Regions from separate parts of the Homo sapiens genome. Here region 1 is linked to region 2. The links come from fine-mapping of genetic effects on gene expression. Tissue or cell type: fibroblasts. Region 2 holds a variant in brackets; the other region holds the start of a gene. All regions are shown on one strand. Distances are from middle to middle. Region 1 holds the start of TMOD3 (tropomodulin 3). Region 2 overlaps TMOD3 (tropomodulin 3).

The links. PIP is the estimated chance that this variant, and not a neighbour inherited with it, causes the effect.
Region 1: it holds the start of TMOD3, and the variant in region 2 is fine-mapped to the expression of TMOD3 in fibroblasts (GTEx, PIP 0.98).

Annotation. Positions count from the first base shown.
Region 1 is chr15:51,827,065-51,832,441 of GRCh38, reverse strand. It overlaps TMOD3 (tropomodulin 3), which reads right to left and starts at 2,789. Exons shown (of 10, transcript NM_014547.5): 1 at 2,606-2,789. RefSeq lists silencers at 2,230-2,509, 2,730-2,884.
Region 2 is chr15:51,849,093-51,854,469 of GRCh38, reverse strand. The region is part of intron 1 of TMOD3 (tropomodulin 3); the gene reads right to left. Among named protein-coding and RNA genes, the nearest start is that of TMOD3, 22 kb to the right of the region's middle. The variant C/T (reference allele first, on the strand shown) is at 2,363.

The DNA.
Region 1 (5,377 bases), 22 kb after region 2:
AGTATAGCCTGGGGAAAGAGATGACCAGTGAATGGAAAAAAATATTGACTTTAGTTGTTCCCCACTCCTGCAACTGGAAAATATCTCTCCTGAATATCTACCACGTTTTTATTCCCTACAGGTGGCTCTTACAAGTGCTGTGGACTATACATAAGTATATCTGCCTAATCCCAAAGAGAATAAGGTCCTAGACAGGAACCATGTCATTCATATATATATATATATATATATATATATAATTTTTTTTCTTTTTTTAGAGAGACAGGGTCTTACTCTGTCACGCAGGCTGGAGTGCAGTGGCACAATCATTGTCTCTCACTGTAACCTCAAACTCCTGGGCTCAAGCAATCCTCCTGCCTCAGCCTCCTGAGTAGCTAGGACTACAGGCATCACCACTACACCTGGCTAATCTATTTTATTTTGTAGAGACAGGGTCTTGCTATGTTGCCCAGGCTGATTTCAAACACCTGGGTTCAAGCAATCCTCCTACCTTGGCCTCCCAAAGTGCTGGGATTACAGGTGTGAGCCACCAGGCCCGGCCCTGGCCTCATGTCTTATACATATTCACCAGGAGCCTGAAACATTGCTTTGTACAGAATACAGAATGGGGCAAGACACATACTTGAATTCATGAATTGCCAAATTAATGTGAATGAAAACAATTAAGGAAGGAAGAGGAGGAGAGAAAAAAAAAGCAAAGAGAAAAAAGAAAAACTAGCAAAGAGAAAGGAAAAGGAAAGAAGGAGAAAAACTTATGATGACAATTGTTCTTGTTAGAGTTCATAGGACTACAGTATTTTAAAAAACTGAGAGTTGAAAAAGCCATCAATTATGTATCTAATATCAGTTATCAGTACCAGTATTTAAATTGCTATTAAAAACACCTGAAAATACCTCTAAAATTACCTCCCCACACTTGACATTCAAAGTATGGTCTCTGACAGCATCACCCATCAGACATACAGACTTTGGACTCTACTTCAAACCTAGAATATCCTGAATGAATTATGCATGCTAAAGTGTTTGAAAAGACTGCCCTCCACCATTCAGGGCCTTTCTGTTGTACCAAACCTGTTTTGTTTCAATGGGCCAGTAATTAAGACACGAAAAATCTTTGAATGGGATTTGACCTGTACCTATTTAATTTCAGATGAAGTTATTAATTACAATGTAGGTTGGCATATTGGATATACCACAAAATTTAGGAATTAATCATAAAAAATATGATTAAATAAAATTGAGCAGTAGGTCTACAGCATTCTCAAGAACTCATGTTTGCTCTTTCTCATGTCTATCATAGGACTTGGAATGCATATCGCCAGTGTTTCCTGAATGAGCAAAATAAATGAACTTTTAAAAACGAGAGATATTTAGGGGCAGAATAATCTTGGGGGTCATCTGGTCCAACAACCTAATTTTAAAGATCAGCAAACTACAATTTCTGAGAGTTGCAAAAGCAAAGAAAGCTCAAAGAATTAAAATATATTGGGACATTTTAATTCGTTTTGTTCCTTTCGTAGGAATGTGTAAGAAAGGGGACTGTAACTATTATGATTGCTGACTCTTAAAGGTGAAAAGGTGCCTAGGAAGAAGAAACTAGCAAGAGTAAATGAGACTTGGCAAAGCTATTTTTCCAAGCCTAATATATTTTTGACGGGCCAATTAATCAATTTAATCTGCCAAAAAAATTAATCTGAAGGTTTCTCAGAAAAGGAGAGGAGACATGAGCTGCATGAAAATGTTACAAACCAAGGGAGGCTGCACATAACTAACTTAAATCTCCACAGGCTTATTTCCTGTTGAAGTATGGCCTCCTGGGGTAAGTTTTACTGCAGTGTTCATTGCCAGATGACTTTTGGTTTTAACAGAGGCCAAGGGCAAGTTGGAAATGCGATTCTTAACTAAACATTAAAAAGAAAAAAAGAAACTGTGGCTGTTTCCCATTTCTGTTTGTAATCAGAATGCAGGCTTGCGGAGGAAACACACCATCCCCCGCAAGCAAAAATATAACGACACAGTCACGTCCTCAAAACAAACTAACACACAAACTTCCCAGCCGGATCCAGCTGTGCTGCCTGGGAGCTAGGAACTTAATTCTAAGAGCAGACAGATCAAACCGGTGAATGCAAGGGCAGCCACATTTCAATCACAAAAAGGGTGTGCCCTAAGTTTTGGCTCCCCCACTCCGCCGCCCCACTTTCAACAAGCCGAAGCCTTTGAAGGAGGCTCGGTGCCATCTCGGTGTGATCGCGTCCCGGCGACGCTGGGTAGGGTGCAGGGAGCCAGCTCGGCCGCGGCTCAGCGGGAGGGGAGGGGGCCGGTCCCGAACCCGGGCGCCCGGGCCGCGGGTGATTCACTGGGAACGCCAGGTTCGCGCGCCTAGACCGGCGGGCGACGCCCAGCGCGCCCCACGTCCCCCGCCCGGGCCGTTCGCGCAGAAGCAGCCCCCGCGCACCCCTGCTCCCCGAGACGGACCCGTCGGGAAGGAGCCTGGAGTCGGGCGGCCGGCGGGCAGCAACCTCTCCCTCCTCAGCCACCATGGCCGGTGCGACTCCCTACCCGCGCCCGCAGACGGACTTCCTGGAAAGCACCGGGCTGGGCTTACCTGACTGGCGCCCGCAGGGGCCGCCGACCTCTTCACAGACCCACGGAAACTGCCGGCCGCAAGCCGAGGCTCGGTTCCCAGCACCCGCCGGTCCGCCCGCGTCGGCCTCCCAAAGAGTTGCCAGACCCACCCGCCAGCAGCTCCCTCACTCGACCGCCCTGTAGGTGCGGTGGGTTCCTCCTTCGCCTCCGACGCGCGTGCGCACTCCCGTGCCGCGGGGCATCCTGGGAGTTGTAGTTCTAGCAAGAAGGGCGAGGCTCAACGCTGACCCTGGTCTTTACAATGGGCAGAACGTAGGAAGGGGACTGCGAATACCAACCCTTATCCCAGTCTAAGATAATGTTCTCTACCCGTGGAAGTACCTACTATGGACTTCCCCGAAGCTGGAAATAGTATCTAGAGGCTCTTTGGTATAGATTTCCTTTTTACTTTGACCTTTTGTAAAGAAGCGCACATGGCAGGGCTTGCATTGTAGCCTTGGTTGTTAATGCGAGGACATGACATTGGGGCCTTTAAACTGGTCATGACAGAGTTATAGAAAAGTAAAGGAATAAAATCTAAAGCCCAAGAGAGGCATAAATCATGCGAATGTCACCTCCAGGGTGTGGTGACCTTAGTGGTTTTCTTAGGTATGCGTTTCGGGGATGATGTAGCTATTGCAGGGCAGTTTCTGCCCATCCTATCTTCCCTTTCCATCTTCAAGCTCTACACCAGGCGGTGGGGCTGGCTGCTGTAGTGGGAGAAAAAACAGAATAGGCTGCTCAAGGGGGGGATTGGGGCAGATGGGTAGTCTAGAGGGAAGAGGAAGAGTGTGGGAATCTCTCAGAGGACTGTTTGACAGTGGCCTATGTAATGGCTACCTTTTGTGCGAGGCTCTGAGGAGAGGGAACTGCGACATTTTTCCATTTATTCATTTAGTCACTTACTGGGAATTTTCCTGGCCTGCTCTTCAGGAGTAGACCATCCCCAGGAATAATGCTAAACTTTGACACACCTTTCAAAAATGCAGCCAAAGAAGTGGACTGACGTGCCTGCTTGAGGTACATTCCAGCTACACCCAGTGTGCGAGCCACTTCATGGTTTAAACCTCTCCTGGCATCTACTTCTTCCCCTCAGAGGAGGGAGGACCCTAGGTTAGATAAACATCCTGGAATTTCATGCAACTGGCACCCACTAATTTCAGCAATGGAGATCACTGATGGTTTAGGTTTTTAAGGGAAAAAAACCCTTCTTTTTTTTTTTCCAAGACAGAGTCTTGTTCTGCCGCCCAGGCTAAAGTGCAGTGGTGTGATCTCGGCTCACTGCAACCTCTGCCTCCCAGGTTTAAGTGATTCTCTTGTCTCAGCCTCCCAAGTAGCTGGGATTACAGGCACGTGCCACCACACCCAGCTAATTTTTGTAGTCCTAGTAGAGATGGGTTTTCACCATGTTGGCCATTCTGGTCTTGAACTCTTGACCTCATGATCTGCCCACCTTGGCCTCCCAAAGTGCTGGGATTACAGGCGTGAGCCACCGTGCTTGGCCAGGAAAAAACCCTTCTCAATTGCAAATACTTAGAGGACAGTCAACACTCAATCTTGTGGCCATTGCATTTTATTTTCTATACCATCTTTGGGTCAATCTCTTGGAGATAACAGCTTTCTGAGAGCAATTTCCTACAGAATTCAGGTTCATAAGAATGTTTATACTTATAATACATACCAACCACTGGGCCAGCACTTCATTTGTAATATCTCATCTAATCCTCAAAACTAATCTAGTCCTCAAAACTCTATAAAGAATAAACTGGTATCCTCCATTTCTATAGATAAGAAAATGAAGACTCAGAAAAGTTAAGTAATTTGTATAAGGTCCCAGAGCCAGTAATTGGAGATCCAGAGATGAGACACAGTTCTCTTGAGTCAAATTCTAATGTGATTTCCACTGCTGATCAGACTGATGTGTCTCCTAAATCTCATCAATTTTTTTTTTTTTGAGACAATCTCATTCTGTCACCCAGGCTGTAGTGAAGTGGTGCTATCATGGCTCGCTGCAGCCGTGACCTCCTGGGCTCAAGCAATCCTCCAACCTCAGCCTCCTGAGTAGCCTGAGCAGCTGGGACTACAAGCATATGCCACCACACCCAACTAATTTTTTTAATTTTTTTTTTTTTGTAGAGACAGGGTCTCCCTATGTTGCCCAGGCTGGTCTTGAACTCCTGGGCTCAAGGGACCCTCCCACCGTGGCCTCCCAAAGTACTGAAATTATAGACATGCAACACCATACCCAGCTGATATGGTTTATTTTAAGAAGGACTTTCCTCTGCAATATGGCTTCTTTTGCTTTGGTCAGAGAGACTTTTTAATTCAGTGTCTGACTGACTTAATCTATTACACTTTTCCTCTCTCACCTTCCAATATGGGCTGTTAGGCATATATTAAATATATTTTCGCTATTCATTTCAAATTTTTCCTAACGAATGTATACATCTTATTTTAGTTCCTTTTTCTAAAATAATGCAGTTTGATGGTGGATTTTTTCCTTTCTTCAGGCATACATTATCATATTTTTATCACAAAGCTTATAAACATGAATCTCTTAAATCCGTGTACATTAAATACCACATATGGGGCCAGAGATGTTAAGAGTAATACCTTAGTATTGGATAGCACTGAAGAGGTAGAACCTTCCTCACTTCTTCCACTCCTTTGCTATAACACATTCGCTATATTAGCAGCCAGAATGACTTTTTTTTTTTTGAGACGGAGTCTCTGTCTGTCGCCCAGGCTGGAG
Region 2 (5,377 bases):
GTGGGCTCAGAGTTTTCAGATTCTTATCCATTCTCTCTTTAATACATACATGTGATCATATTGCTCTCTGGCCCAAAAGCCTTATATAACTCATATTACCCACAACAGGGTTAGGCAAACTACAGGGGGCCAAATTCGGCCTGCTGCCTGTCTTTGTAAATGTTTTATTTGAACACATTCACATTCATTCATTTATGTATTGCCTATGGCTGCTTTTGTGCTACAATGACAGAGCTGAGTGATTGCAACAGAGACCAGATGGCTTGCAAAGCTAAAATATTTACTATTTGGCCCTTTACAGAAAAAGTTTGCCCATCCCTGACCTACAAGAGAAAGTCCAATCTCCTCAGCATAAGATACACAGTTCAGAGAAGCTGGTCCTTACTAGCTAGTTTTCCTATATTATCTCGGACTGCTCCCCATCACATAGCCTATACTCCAAACAGGCCACAAACTTTAGGCCTCTCTATTCCTTTGCTTATTATGTTCCCTCTCTCTAGAAAAAATGCATTCATTCCCATCTACCTCTATCCTCAACTGAACCTCACATATTCTTCAAGACCTAGCTGAAAATGTCCTATCTTCCCTGAAAATTTCCCTGGTCTCCATTCTCACACCCAGGCAAAATTAATGATTTCCTTAATGATGTTGCCATTATCTTTTTTTTTTTTTTTTTTTTAAGAGACAGTGACTCGCTCTGTCAGGCCAGAGTGCAGTGGCGCAGCCTCAAACTCTTAGGTTCAAGTGATCCCTCCTCCTCAGCCTCCTGAGTAGGTAGGACTACCAGCATAAGACATCATGCCCAAACTGTTGTTATTATCTTTATATATACATCCATTATAACCACAGGTTGTATGTACATCGGTAACTTCAAAACTTAAGGGTGTAACTGAAAATACTGACATAAAATGGTAAGAGTGTTTCCTAGAAAATCAGATATATAAAATGACAGTACCATAACTAAAGAAAGTCCAGGTGCAGTGGCTCACGCCTGTCATCCCAGCACTTTGGGAAGCCAAGGAGGGAGGATCGCTTAAGTCCAGGAGTTTGAGACGAGCCTGGGCAACATAGTGAGACCCCCATCTCTACAAAATACAAAAAACTAGCCAGGCATGATGGCCCACGTCTGTAGGCCCAGCTAGTAGGAGGCCGAGGTGGGAGGATCACTTGAACCCAAGAGGTCCAGGCTGCAGTCAGCCATGATTGCACCATTGCACTCCAGCCTGGGTGACAGAGTGAGACTCTGTCTTAAAAATAAACAAACAATAAAGAAGGCAATATTTCATCATCCAATTATTTCCTCTTATTCTTCTCAATGTTCACCAAGATATCTTCTAATTAAAATTCAGCTATTCATGTAGCTTTCCTCACTAGATATTAATAAATTGATATTTTGGCTTACGTATAAGTCTTTTTTATGAGTATGGTTGCTACATGCCAGTTTTTAAGAGATTAGACACCTACCAGTTGATTGAAATTGTGTCTCTGTAAAGATAAAGCTGTGGGCCATCACCTGAAATCCTATCCCAGAGCTGGCTGGCCAGCTACTCCATAAAGACACCCCTCAAACTTACTTCAAACCAACAATTATGCTGTATTGGAGTTAGTCTTTCACCTGTCTCTCTCACTAGACACTGTAAAGCTCTTGAAGAGCAGAGAATCTCTCCCAGATCTCATTCCCCACTGGGCTGCCATTGCCAGGTACAGTACATAGCTAACACAAATTTGATATACTTGGATCACACATCAATCTCTGCTTTCCCTTCTTTGGTAGTTCCCTCTTTCTCCTCCAGCTACCTAGTATCCTCTTGCTCCCAAACTCTAATCCCCTTATCACAACTAAAGGGGGGGCTGAAAATGAATTTTTGATACTTCCGTTGATCCTTTGCAGCCCCTTCTTCACCTTTTCTTCCCTATCAACTCATTTGAGCTTAGTATTCAGAGTTCTCTGCTGTCTAATCTCCCCCAGCTAAAAACAAAACAAAAAATCTGCTCATCAGTCATCTCTGAAATTAAATGAAAATTTGATTTTTTTTTTTTTTAGGTAACCAAATGAGTTTCCTCTTCAGGAGACACCAGGCCTCAGGTTAACTCCACTTCAGGTGCTGGAGGCCTTCTCTTCAGTTGCGCTAGGCTTAAGACTGTTATGCTGTCTTTTCCTCACTGGCTTCTCCTAGGATCCCTGGGTGCTCAATCTCCACAACCCACCAGATCAGAGAATTTTTTTGATCTCAAGATTCCCAGATGAATATTTGTTTTTCAATATACTTACTGTTCTTTTGACATATATTTTTGAACATTTCCTACGCCATGAATTACTTGTTCTAGACAACAGGCATAAGCAGTATACAAGACAGACAAG[C/T]TCCCTGCCCTATTTTAAAAGTGGCATACAGACAAAAACCAATTAATAAAGGAAGAAGGTAATACGAGACAGCAATAAGTACTATAAGGAAGAAAACTTAAAGCAAAGGAGGTGGGGAGGATCAGGAAGGCTAACTGAAATGGTTCAGAAGGACTGTTCTGAAAGATGACTTTTGAGCTAGGACCTGAGGTCTCCAAGCAGCTCTCTCAGCCTAGGACTACGCTAATAGCTGCAATCTAGGTGAGAAATGATGGCAGCTTTGCCTAGAGTTGTGGCTGTGGAGATGGAGAGAAGTAGATAAACGTGATATGTTTTGGAAACACAGCGGTTGGCTGTAGGGGATAAAAACACGAGCTGCACGAAGGATGACTTCTAAGTCAATTTCAGTTAGTATTTAATAATATTTCTTATTCCACACCTATTTTTATCCTGAGGAGCTGAACATTGCCCTATGCTACCTGTATTTCTCAGCCTGCTTTAAAAAGAGTTTCTTGGTTGATATTTTCATCGTAATCTGTTTTGAGATCCACATTGTGAATGGTCCTAATATGACAGTTTATGAACAAACCCATAATAATGATAATCAACTAACTAAACAAAATCAACCAATCAAAAGTTACTAAATAAAACATTTGCTGGCTGTCCTTAAACATATTCACAGTCTAAACCAAAGAACATGTATTTTTGTTAATGCCATTTCTGGTATCATTTTTTGCAAAAGATTGAGTCTAAAAAGTGAAACAAGCAAATAACTTGTCACGCCTTAAAAAATTTTTACACAATTGCTGTTTCTTATTTTCTTTACAAGATTTTCAATGCTTACTGGTCAAACTGCTGAAGAGTCATGAATCTGGCACCCAGGAACCGTAGTGATGATCCCCTTACTCTGAGTTCCCTGACCTTCTTTCTTCTCACAGCCCAGTCCTCAGCTTACCTCAGCTCCACATCCCCATGGTTATCACCCCCCAGCAGTCCTTATCCTTACCAATAAGTGTGCCCCTCCATAACTCTCAACATCTTTGACTGTGTCTCTCTGGAACTCCTCTGGCAAAACCCCACATCTGGTTAAAACTAACTCTTCCGGCCGAGTGCGGTGGCTCATGCCTGTACACTTTGGGAGGCCAAGGTTGGCGAATTACGAGGTCAAGAGTTTGAGACCAGCTTCACCAACATGGTGAAACCCCTGTCTCTCCTAAAAATACAAAAATTAACTGAGCGTGGTGGCGCGTGCCTATAATCCCAGCTGAGGAGGCTGAGGCAGGAGAATCGCTTGAACCCAGGAGGCAGAGGTTACAGTGAGCCGAGATCGCGCCACTGCACTCCAGCCTGGGTGACAGAGCAATACTCCGTCTCAAACAAACAAACAAACAAACAAAAAACCTAACTCTTCCTACTCCTCACCAGCACCAGGGTGGCAGATGAAGCTGGAGAAAAAATACATGAACTGACTGGCTACATTTAAAATGTATCACCACTAATGTCAAAGAGTACTGCCTAATAATTCTAATATTCTAGTATTTCAAATCCTAGTCCAGTCACTCTCCTACTCTCTTAGATGACTTTTTTCTACTTCTTTTTTCTCAGACCTTCAATACTGCCTACCCCTCACTCTCTGATGACCTTACCTTAATATTTCACTGAGAATATAGAAGCAATCATAAAATGACATCTGAGTTCCCATCATATCAACAAACCTGCCACACCTGTACCCATACACTCTACCTTCCCTCTTGCTATTATGGATAAACTGTCCAGTCTCTTACCTAAGGCCAATCCTGCCTCTTGGAACCAGATCCCATCCCTGCTCATTTATACAAGGGTTCCAGTATACATTTATACAAGAGCACAATTATCCAGTAATTGTGCTCTTTTTCTACTGGACCATGCCCATTAGCACACAGACTGTAATACATACCTCAAATAAAAAACATATAAACTCTCCTTCTACTTCACATCCCTCTCCAGACACTACCCTACTTCTTGGCTCCACTTTACAGCCAAACTTAAAAGAATTGTCTATATTTGGTAACCCGAGTCCTCTCCCTCTTATTGTCTCAAATATTCTCCCATCTGGCTTTCATCCCCACCACTCACTCCACCCAAACTGATCTTGCCAGCACAGTGCTAAATCCAACTGTCAATTTTCAGTCCTCATCTTTTTTTTTTTTTTTATTGAGACAGAGTCTCGTTCTGTCACCCAGGCTGACATGCAGTGGTGTGATCTCGGCTGACTGCAACCTCCACCTCCTGAGTTCAAGCAATTTTCCTTCTTCAGCCTCCCGAGTAGCTGGGATTACAGGTGTGAGCCACCATGCCTGGCTAATTTTTTTTGTATTTTTGGAAGAGATGAGGTTTCACCATGTTGGCCAGGCTGGCCTTGAACTCCTGACCTCAGGTGATCCACCTGCCTTGGCCTCCCAAAGTGCTGGGATTACAGGCAGGAGCCACCTTAGTCCACATCTTAAGAGACCTATTAGACACAGTGTCTGGCCATAAAACACTTTCCTCACTTGGCTTTGGGGACATCATTTTTTCTTGGTCCTTCCTCCCTGACTGCCCCATCTCATTCTCCTCTGCTGGTTCCTCCTCATCTTCCTCATCTTCAAATGTTGGAGTGCCCCCAGTACTTAGTTCCTTGGACAGCTTCTCTTTCTATACTCACTGCCTTGGTGATTTCATACACTGATAACTTTTAAATTGATATCTCCAATCTGGACCTCTCTCCTGAATTCCATACTTGCAAATAACTATCCATGTAAAATCTCCACTTGGATGGCTAACAGGTTTCTCAAATGTAAACATACAAAACAGACTCCTAATTTTCTCCCCCATACCTGCTCTTGCCATGTTTTTCCCATGTAATAAACAGCAACACCATTCTTTAGTCTCTCAGGCCAAAAATCTTGGAGTCAACTTTGATTTCTCTCGCACTCCACACATGATCCACCCAGCAAATCTTGCTGGTTTTACCTTTAAAAGTCATCTCTTTACCATCTCCACTGCTTCCTTCCACTC